2 linked regions of the Homo sapiens genome follow. The protein of the gene in region 1 purifies or fractionates together with the protein of each later gene. This does not show direct contact. Each region holds a gene or a part of one and is shown on either strand. Other genes may lie near its edges. The genes, in order: CYP4X1 and PPFIA1.

Region 1 (3,821 bases):
TATAGCTATCCTTATGCTAGTACCACACTGCCTTACTGTTGCTTTGTAGTAAGCTTTGAAATCAGGAAGTATGAGTCCCCCGCACTTTGGTATTTTCCAAGATTATTTTGGCTGTTTGGAATCCTTGAGTTTCTATACAAATTTTAGACTCAGCCTATCAATTTCTACAAGGAAACCAGCTAGGGTTCTGCTTGGGATTGCACTGAATCTGTAGATCAGTTTGGGGATTATTGCCATCTTAAGAATATTAGGTCTTCTGATCCATGAACACAGAAAGCCTTTCCGTTTAGTTAGGTCATCTTTAATTTTTTTTGTTGTTTTTTTTTGTTTTTTGAGACAGAGTCCTGCTCTGTCGCCCAGGCTGGAGTGCAGTGACGCAATCTCGGCTCACTGCAACCTCCGCCTCTCGGATTCAAGCGATTCTCCTGCCTCAGCCTCCCAAGCAGCTGGGACTACAGGCACATGCCACCACACCAACTAATTTTTGTATTTTCAGTAGAGACGGGGTTTCACCATATTGGCCAGGCTAGTCTCGAACTCCTGACCTCGTGATCCACCCGCCTCACCCTCCCAAAGTGCTGGGATTACAGGCGTGAGCCACCACTCCCGGCTTTCTTTAATTTTTTTTAACGATGTTTTTGTATTTTTCAAAGTATACATCTTGCATTTCTTTTGTTAAATTTATTTGTTTTGTTCTTTTTAATTTCATTTCAGACTATTTATTGCATTCATAGTGTTTTAGAGTCCACATTCCCTCTTGACTGTCACTAAGTTTTTTTTTTTCTGTTTTTGAGAGGTTTCTATCAGAATTTTGCAGATCAGAGATGACGGACATGTCAAACTGTCTAATATTACCAACCCTCCCCATTTATCAGATCAGGATCCTTTTGGTGATTCACCATGCAGGGAAATCTAGTATCTAAGGCTCAAAAGGTGATACTGTTTTACATAGGCAGTAACATTTTATTGCTACATAATAACTACATATTTATGGAGTACCTGTGATATTTTGATACGTGCATACAATGTGCAGTGATCAAATCAGGGTGTTTAGGGTATTCATCACTTCTAACATTTATTATTTATTTGTGTTTGGAACATTTCAAGTCTCTTCAAGCTCTTCAGAAATATTCAATACATTATTGTTAACAGTGCTATTGAACACTGGAACTTATTCCTTCTATCTAAAGACAGTAACATTTTAAGTATAGTCATAAGGTTACAGAAGGATAAAGTGTGTATAGGGAAAATTCCCTACAAGATAAGAATTTCATTCCTTACTCTTAGTAATACAGGTCTTCAAACATGCCAAGGATATTCCTCCCTTGGAGCTTTGAACATGCACGTCTGTGGTTATATTGCTCTCCCTGCAAATTATTCCTAAAAGAGGCTTGCCCTGACCATTCAGACTAAAATAGCACCTCTAGTACTCTCTATCTCCAACCCTATTATTATTATCTTGGCCCTTATCACTCTCTGACACTATACTGTATACTCTTTTGCTTGTTCATTTATTATCCACCACTAACTACAATATAAAATCTGTGAGAGGTAGGATCTTTGTTTGCCACTATAAACCTAGTGCATGGTACAGTTCCTGGTGCATAATAGGTGCTCAATAAATCCTTTGTTGAATGCATAAATATATTAGGTGCTGAGAAAATTTATTTATTCAAAGATCAATTTACTGCATAGAATAGGCCAGGTGGTTTGACATTTATTCAATAGCCAACATATGGGACCTAGGATGTACATATGCAAGTGTGTGTGTGTATGTGTGTGTGCATCTGCATGTGTACTTGGATGTACTGCAGAGAACATCTATGTAGCTAAGTAGTATAAAGCACTTGGGCTCCAGAGTTAAACTGGAGTTTGAATCCTCATTAGTGGTTGCCAGCTGTACACACTTGGGCAGATCATTTAACCTAGTCTGTAGGGCTCAATTTCCTCATCTCTAAAGTAGGGATTGTAATCATATCTACTTCATAGGGTTCTTGATGTAAATATTAAATAACATAGAACATGGAAAGCATTTAGCAGCACCTAGTTCATAGCAGTGCTTGATAAATGTTCGCTGTTGCTATTTGGGGGCACTATGCATTTTCTGAACATTTCTGAACAATGTTTACTAAATATATGTAGTACCCGTTTTCAAGTGTATTTAGATGCTTCTCTGGGGATGAAGAAATATAAATTAAATATAGTACAGTATTCACAACAGTTTTCTGTCCTTTTTGTCTAGTCAGGAGTTACAAAAAGTATAATGAAATACTTTCATATGGCTGGGGTGTTTATGAAAATTTTTTACCTAAACAAACAATTGTCATATTAGTTTACAATATTCATGAGGGCAAAGGCCTTGTCTTCCTTATATTTCTCTGTATCTCTACCACCTGGTACGTGTGATAGACAATAAATACTTGTGTGTTTATTGTTTGTAAATGAATAAATGAAAAAATATTCACATTGTTGAAAACCACTACTCTGGATAGTCAGTGGGTGCTTATCACTGGCTTGATTATGGCAACATTAACAAAAAAGTGCAGTATTTTAGAAACTAGGTTTCAAGACTCTCAACCTTTCAGTGGCCTTGAACTATCCAGAGAACACTTTATGGGTTAAAATTGCTAAATGATAACAGAGAAAAATGGGAGCCAGAGTTGTCCACCTCTCCAGAGGATGAGAGCAAACAATCCTGCAGCAGATACCGTGTGATTGGTCACACGAGGAAAAATCTGGCAGCCTTAAGATTACTTTGCAGCGGGGGACTCCCACCATCATGCTCAAGTGTGTAGATGGGCACACCAAAACACACACATGCAGGTGCCCTCCACTTTACACAAGAAGCAAATGTAAATGAATCTTGTTTTCAGTGATTTAGAGAAACAATTTAAGTGAGCCATTACTCATCTGCTTCTAAAAGCAAAAACTCCTTCTCTGGTGGTAGTATTTGCACTCTCATTTGTAAATGTTGGAAGCTGAAAGTTTTGTATTTGAGTTTGCTTTAAGATTCACACATCTGTGTAAATGGACCTTCTGTTGTTGGGGGGAGAATTTGGATTTTCTTTATAGATAGAGTTGGCAATTTTTTAGAGAGAAGCATTTACTGCTAAGTCATGAGAAATAATCACTGGTGCATAATTAGAGAGAGGAACAGGAAGAAGAAATGGTGAGCTGGATGTAGGGTCATGCCCCATTTAGTAACTGTTAGTTTCCCACATAGGAAATACTTCTTTTTAGCTTCCAGATCCCACTCCAATCTGAGTGTGTGATGTTGGCAAGTGAGGCAGAGAGTGTGACTCGGCTCACCCTCTATTGGGACAAGAGTTCACAGTAAATGTCATTCAACAGTGACTTGGTCTGGGGGTACAGGATATATTAATATTGAGAAGATAAATACACTAACTTTGTTTAGAGAATTATCCCCCAAGCTTAGAAGTCCCAAAGAAAGCATGTTATGTCACTTCCAGAAAAGTCTCAGGCTCCTCTGCTTGTGTGACCTTATCAGGTCCTGAACTCAGCTTGTGTCTATAAGAGGGGACAGGTCCAGCTTGGCTGGCTAATTACTTTTACTTTTTTCACTGCAGTTTATTCAGGATGATAACATGGAGAAGCTTGAGGAAATTATTGAAAAATACCCTCGTGCCTTCCCTTTCTGGATTGGGCCCTTTCAGGCATTTTTCTGTATCTATGACCCAGACTATGCAAAGACACTTCTGAGCAGAACAGGTAAGAAGAGGGGGAAAGCTCTGGGACCTATTCCTCCTAGAAGTGAAATGCATAAAACCCATAGGCAAGATTCCAAAGCAAAGATTGGTTTG
Region 2 (3,821 bases), on another chromosome or scaffold:
GATTTAACTCCCTCCTACCTTTTGTGTCATTGTTTTATATATTTCAGTTTAATTTATATTTATTTTTAAAAATAGAGACAGCGTCTTGCTGTATTGCCCCAGCTGGTCTTCAACTCCTGGCCTCAGGTGATCCTCCCCCCTTAGCCTCCCAAAACAATGGGATCCAGGCGTGAGCCACTACACGCTTTTAGCTGCATCTTACAAGTTTATGTACTTTAATTTTAGATATACTTTTGCAGTATCATAATTATTTTGTACAGTTAATGTTTATTTAGATTTATCCTCTTAGTTACCATTTTTGTTGCTCTTCATTCTTTATTGTTGTTTCATGTTTCTGCCGGGGATTATATTTCTTGTTTTTTTTTTTTCTTTTTTTCTTTTTTGAGACAGAGTCTCGCTCTGTTGCCCAGGCTGAAGTGCAGTGGCACGATCTTGGCGCACTGCAACCTCCATCTCCCATGTTTGAGCGATTTTCTTGCCTCAGCCTTCTGAGTAGCTGGGACTATAGGCATATGCCACCACATCCGGCTAATTGTTGTATTTTTAGTAGAGACTGGGTTTCACCATGTTGGCCAGGCTGGTCTCAAGCTCCTGACCTCAAGTGATCTGCCTGCTTCAGCCTCCAAAGTGCTGGGATTACAGATGTGAGCCACTGCGCCCAGCCTATATTTCTTTTCCCTGAAGAACTTTCTACGGTATTTCTTTGAGTTCATATCTGTGGATAATGAATTGTCATTTTTGTTTGCCTGAAAATTTTCTATTTTGCCTTTAGTTTTTGTTTTGTTTTGTTTTGTTTTGTTTTTTAAGATGGAGTCTCGCTCTGTCGCCGGTCTGGAGTGCAGTGATGTGATCTTGGCTCACTGCAACCACCGCCTCCCGGGTTCAAGCAATTCTCCTGCCTCAGCCGCCCGAGTAGCTGGAACTACAAGCACGTGCCACCACGCCCAGCTAATTTTTGTATTTTTAGTAGAGAAGGTGTTTCACCATGTTGGCCAGGATGGTCTCTATCTGTTGACCTGGTGATCTGCCCTCGTCAGCCTCCCAAAGTGCTGGGATTACAGGCGTGAGCCACCATGCCTGGCCTTTTTTTTTTTAAATGTGATGTTTCACCATGTTTGCCAGGCTGGGGTCAAACTCATTGGCTCAAGCAGCTGCCTGCCTCAGCCTCCCAAACTGCTGGGATTACAGGTGTGAGCCACTGTGCCCAATTTGCCTTCAGTTTTGAAGGATGATTTTGCTGGGTATAGAATACTGGGATCGTGGTCATTTCCTTGCACCATTTTGTAGCAGCGAATTCATTGTTTTTTTAGCTCGCTTCCTTTTTCTTGACAAGTCAGCTTTTGGTGTTATTGTTGTCCCATTTGAAGTAATACTTCTTTTTATTTTCCCCTCTGGTTGCTTTTTATTTTTATTTTTTGGAGAGGATATGACTTTTACTGAGTTTATCCACCAGAGTGGAAATAATGTTTGTGCAAAACCAAATGTTTGTTACTATAACTCTCCATCACAATTAAAATCCAAACAGTTTTTTGAAAACAGTCAACTCAATCAAAACCCACTACTTCAGAATCAATAGCTTCTTTGAAGCCACAGTAACAAATATGGTTAAGACTTGAATGTAGAAATTTGTTGGTTGGAAAGCTAATTAAACTTCCAACTTGCTCAAGTAGAATTACAGAAAGGCAGAATTGTGTTTTTCACAGAGATATAGTTCACTGGAATCAGCCACACTGGACAGCTGGTAGAGTGTTTAGGGTCCTGAGATAATAAGGAATCCAGGCAGCCTTTAGACAGTCTGCTGTTGTCCTTTCTTCCCAATTAGAGATTTGTGGATGTGTGGAATGACACCTTTACCAGCAATTGTAGACTTGAAGAGAGAGCCCAATTCTTTATCTCCACGAATGGCAAGTTGCAAGTAATGAGGGGTAGTATGCTTTACTGTGAAGTCTTTTGACGCATTTCTTGCCAGTTCAAGTACCTCTGCGGTGAGGTACTCCAGGATGGCTGTGCTATTCACAGCGGCAGTCGCGCCCACACGTCCAGGACTGATTGTCCTAGATTTCAGGTGTCAGTGAATACGGCCCACCAGGAACTGCAAATTGGCTCTCTTGTGAGTGGGAAGCTGCCTTTGTTGGCCTTTCTGGAGTCCTTCCCAGCCTTACTGCCAGCCATTTTCAATTCTGCTGAAGCTCAAACAGGCAAGGCAGAGAAAGGACTAATCAGACACACAGCAAGATCTCACCATCTACTCATTCCTCACACCAGGATTTGAAGCTGCCTCTGGTGGCTTGTAACATTTTCTTTGCTTCAGGCATTAGCAAAACTTGGTATTTGTTGTATTGGTGGCCTGGTTCCTAATCAATTTTGGAAGTTTTGGCTCTTCTCTCTATAAATATTCCTATTTTCCACTCATCTTCACTCAGAGGGCCTCCATTTTTGTGTACATTAGGCATTTTTTTTTTTTTTGAGATGGAGTTTCGCTATTGTTGCCCAAGTTGGAGTGCAATGGTGTGATATACATTAGGCTTTTATCATGTCCTATGTGTCTCTTGTGCTCCTTTCCGTATTTTCTAGACCTTTTCTGTGTATGTGTCTAGGTGTGTGTGTGTGTGTGTGTGTGTGTGTGTGTGTGTGTGTATTTAGTTTTTAGAGACTGGGTCTCTCTGTTGCCCAGGGTGGTCTTGAACTCTTGGGCTCAAGCAGTCTTCCTGCCTTGGCCTCCTAAACTGTTGGGACTACAGGCGTGAGCCACCGTGTCCGGCCTGTGTGTGTGTGGGGGATGTGTGTGTGTGTATATTTTTGGGACAGGGTCTCGCTCTGTTGCCCAGGCTGTAGTGTAGTGGTGCAGTCTCAGCTCACTGCAGCATCTGCCTTCTGGGCTCAAGCGATCCTCCCACCTCAGCTCCTGAGTAGCAGGGACTACAGGTGCGTGCCACCACACCTGGCTAATTTCTGTATTTTCAGTGGAGGTGGGGTTTTGCCATGTTGCACAGACTGGTCTCAAACTCCTGGACTTAAGTGATCCACTTGCCTCAGTCTCCGAAAGTGTTGGGATTACAGGCATGAGCTAGCATGTGTGTATATATGTGTGTATATATATATACGTACATACATATATATATATAAATATATATGTATATAAAAATTTTTAAGAGACAGGTGGCTGGGTGCAGTGGCTCACGCCTGTAATCCCAGCACTTTGGGAGGCCAAGGTGGGTGAATCACTTGAAGTCAGGAGTTCGAGACCAGCCTGGCCAACATGGTGAAACCCTGTCTCTACTAAAAATACAAAAAATAGCCGGGCATGGTGGCACATGCCTGTAATCCCAGCTACTTGGGAGGCTGAGGCAGGAGACTCACTTGAACCTGGGAGACGGAGGTTGCAGTGAGCCAAGATCACGCCATTGCACTCCAGCCTGGGTGGCAAGAGCGAAACTCCGTCTCGGGGAAAAAGAAAAAGACAGGCACCCTGTTGTTGCCGAGGCTGCAGTGCAGTGGCGCGCGTGATCACTGTTCACTGCAGCCTCAAACTCCAGGGCTCAAGCAATCCTTCTGCCTCAGCCTTCTGAGTAGCTGGGACTATAGGTATGTGCCACTGTGCCCAGCTAATTTTTAAATTTTTTGTAGAGGCAGGGTCTTGCTATTTTGCCCAAGCTGTTCTTAAACTCCTGACCTCAAGTGAGCCTCCTACCTTGACATGTCAAAGCACTGGGATTACAGGTGTGAGCTATTGTGCCCAAAATCTAAAGTCCAGATTTTTTTTACTGACCCATCTTCCACCTCACTCATCCCCTCTTCATTTGTGTCCAATCTGCTGTTTA

Evidence for each region.
Region 2: the proteins of CYP4X1 (region 1) and PPFIA1 purify together in Homo sapiens (affinity purification with mass spectrometry; 3 studies listed by BioGRID and IntAct, with this or other methods). This does not show direct contact.

The regions. Positions count from the first base shown.
Region 1 is NC_000001.11:47,026,403-47,030,223, forward strand, and holds part of CYP4X1 (cytochrome P450 4X1), read left to right. Parts: intron 1-3,587; coding exon 3,588-3,729; intron 3,730-3,821. UniProt on the Homo sapiens protein: A cytochrome P450 monooxygenase that selectively catalyzes the epoxidation of the last double bond of the arachidonoyl moiety of anandamide, potentially modulating endocannabinoid signaling.
Region 2 is NC_000011.10:70,277,126-70,280,946, forward strand, and holds part of PPFIA1 (liprin-alpha-1), read left to right. Parts: intron 1-1,489; exon of another isoform or gene 1,490-2,278; intron 2,279-3,821. UniProt on the Homo sapiens protein: May regulate the disassembly of focal adhesions. May localize receptor-like tyrosine phosphatases type 2A at specific sites on the plasma membrane, possibly regulating their interaction with the extracellular environment and their association with substrates.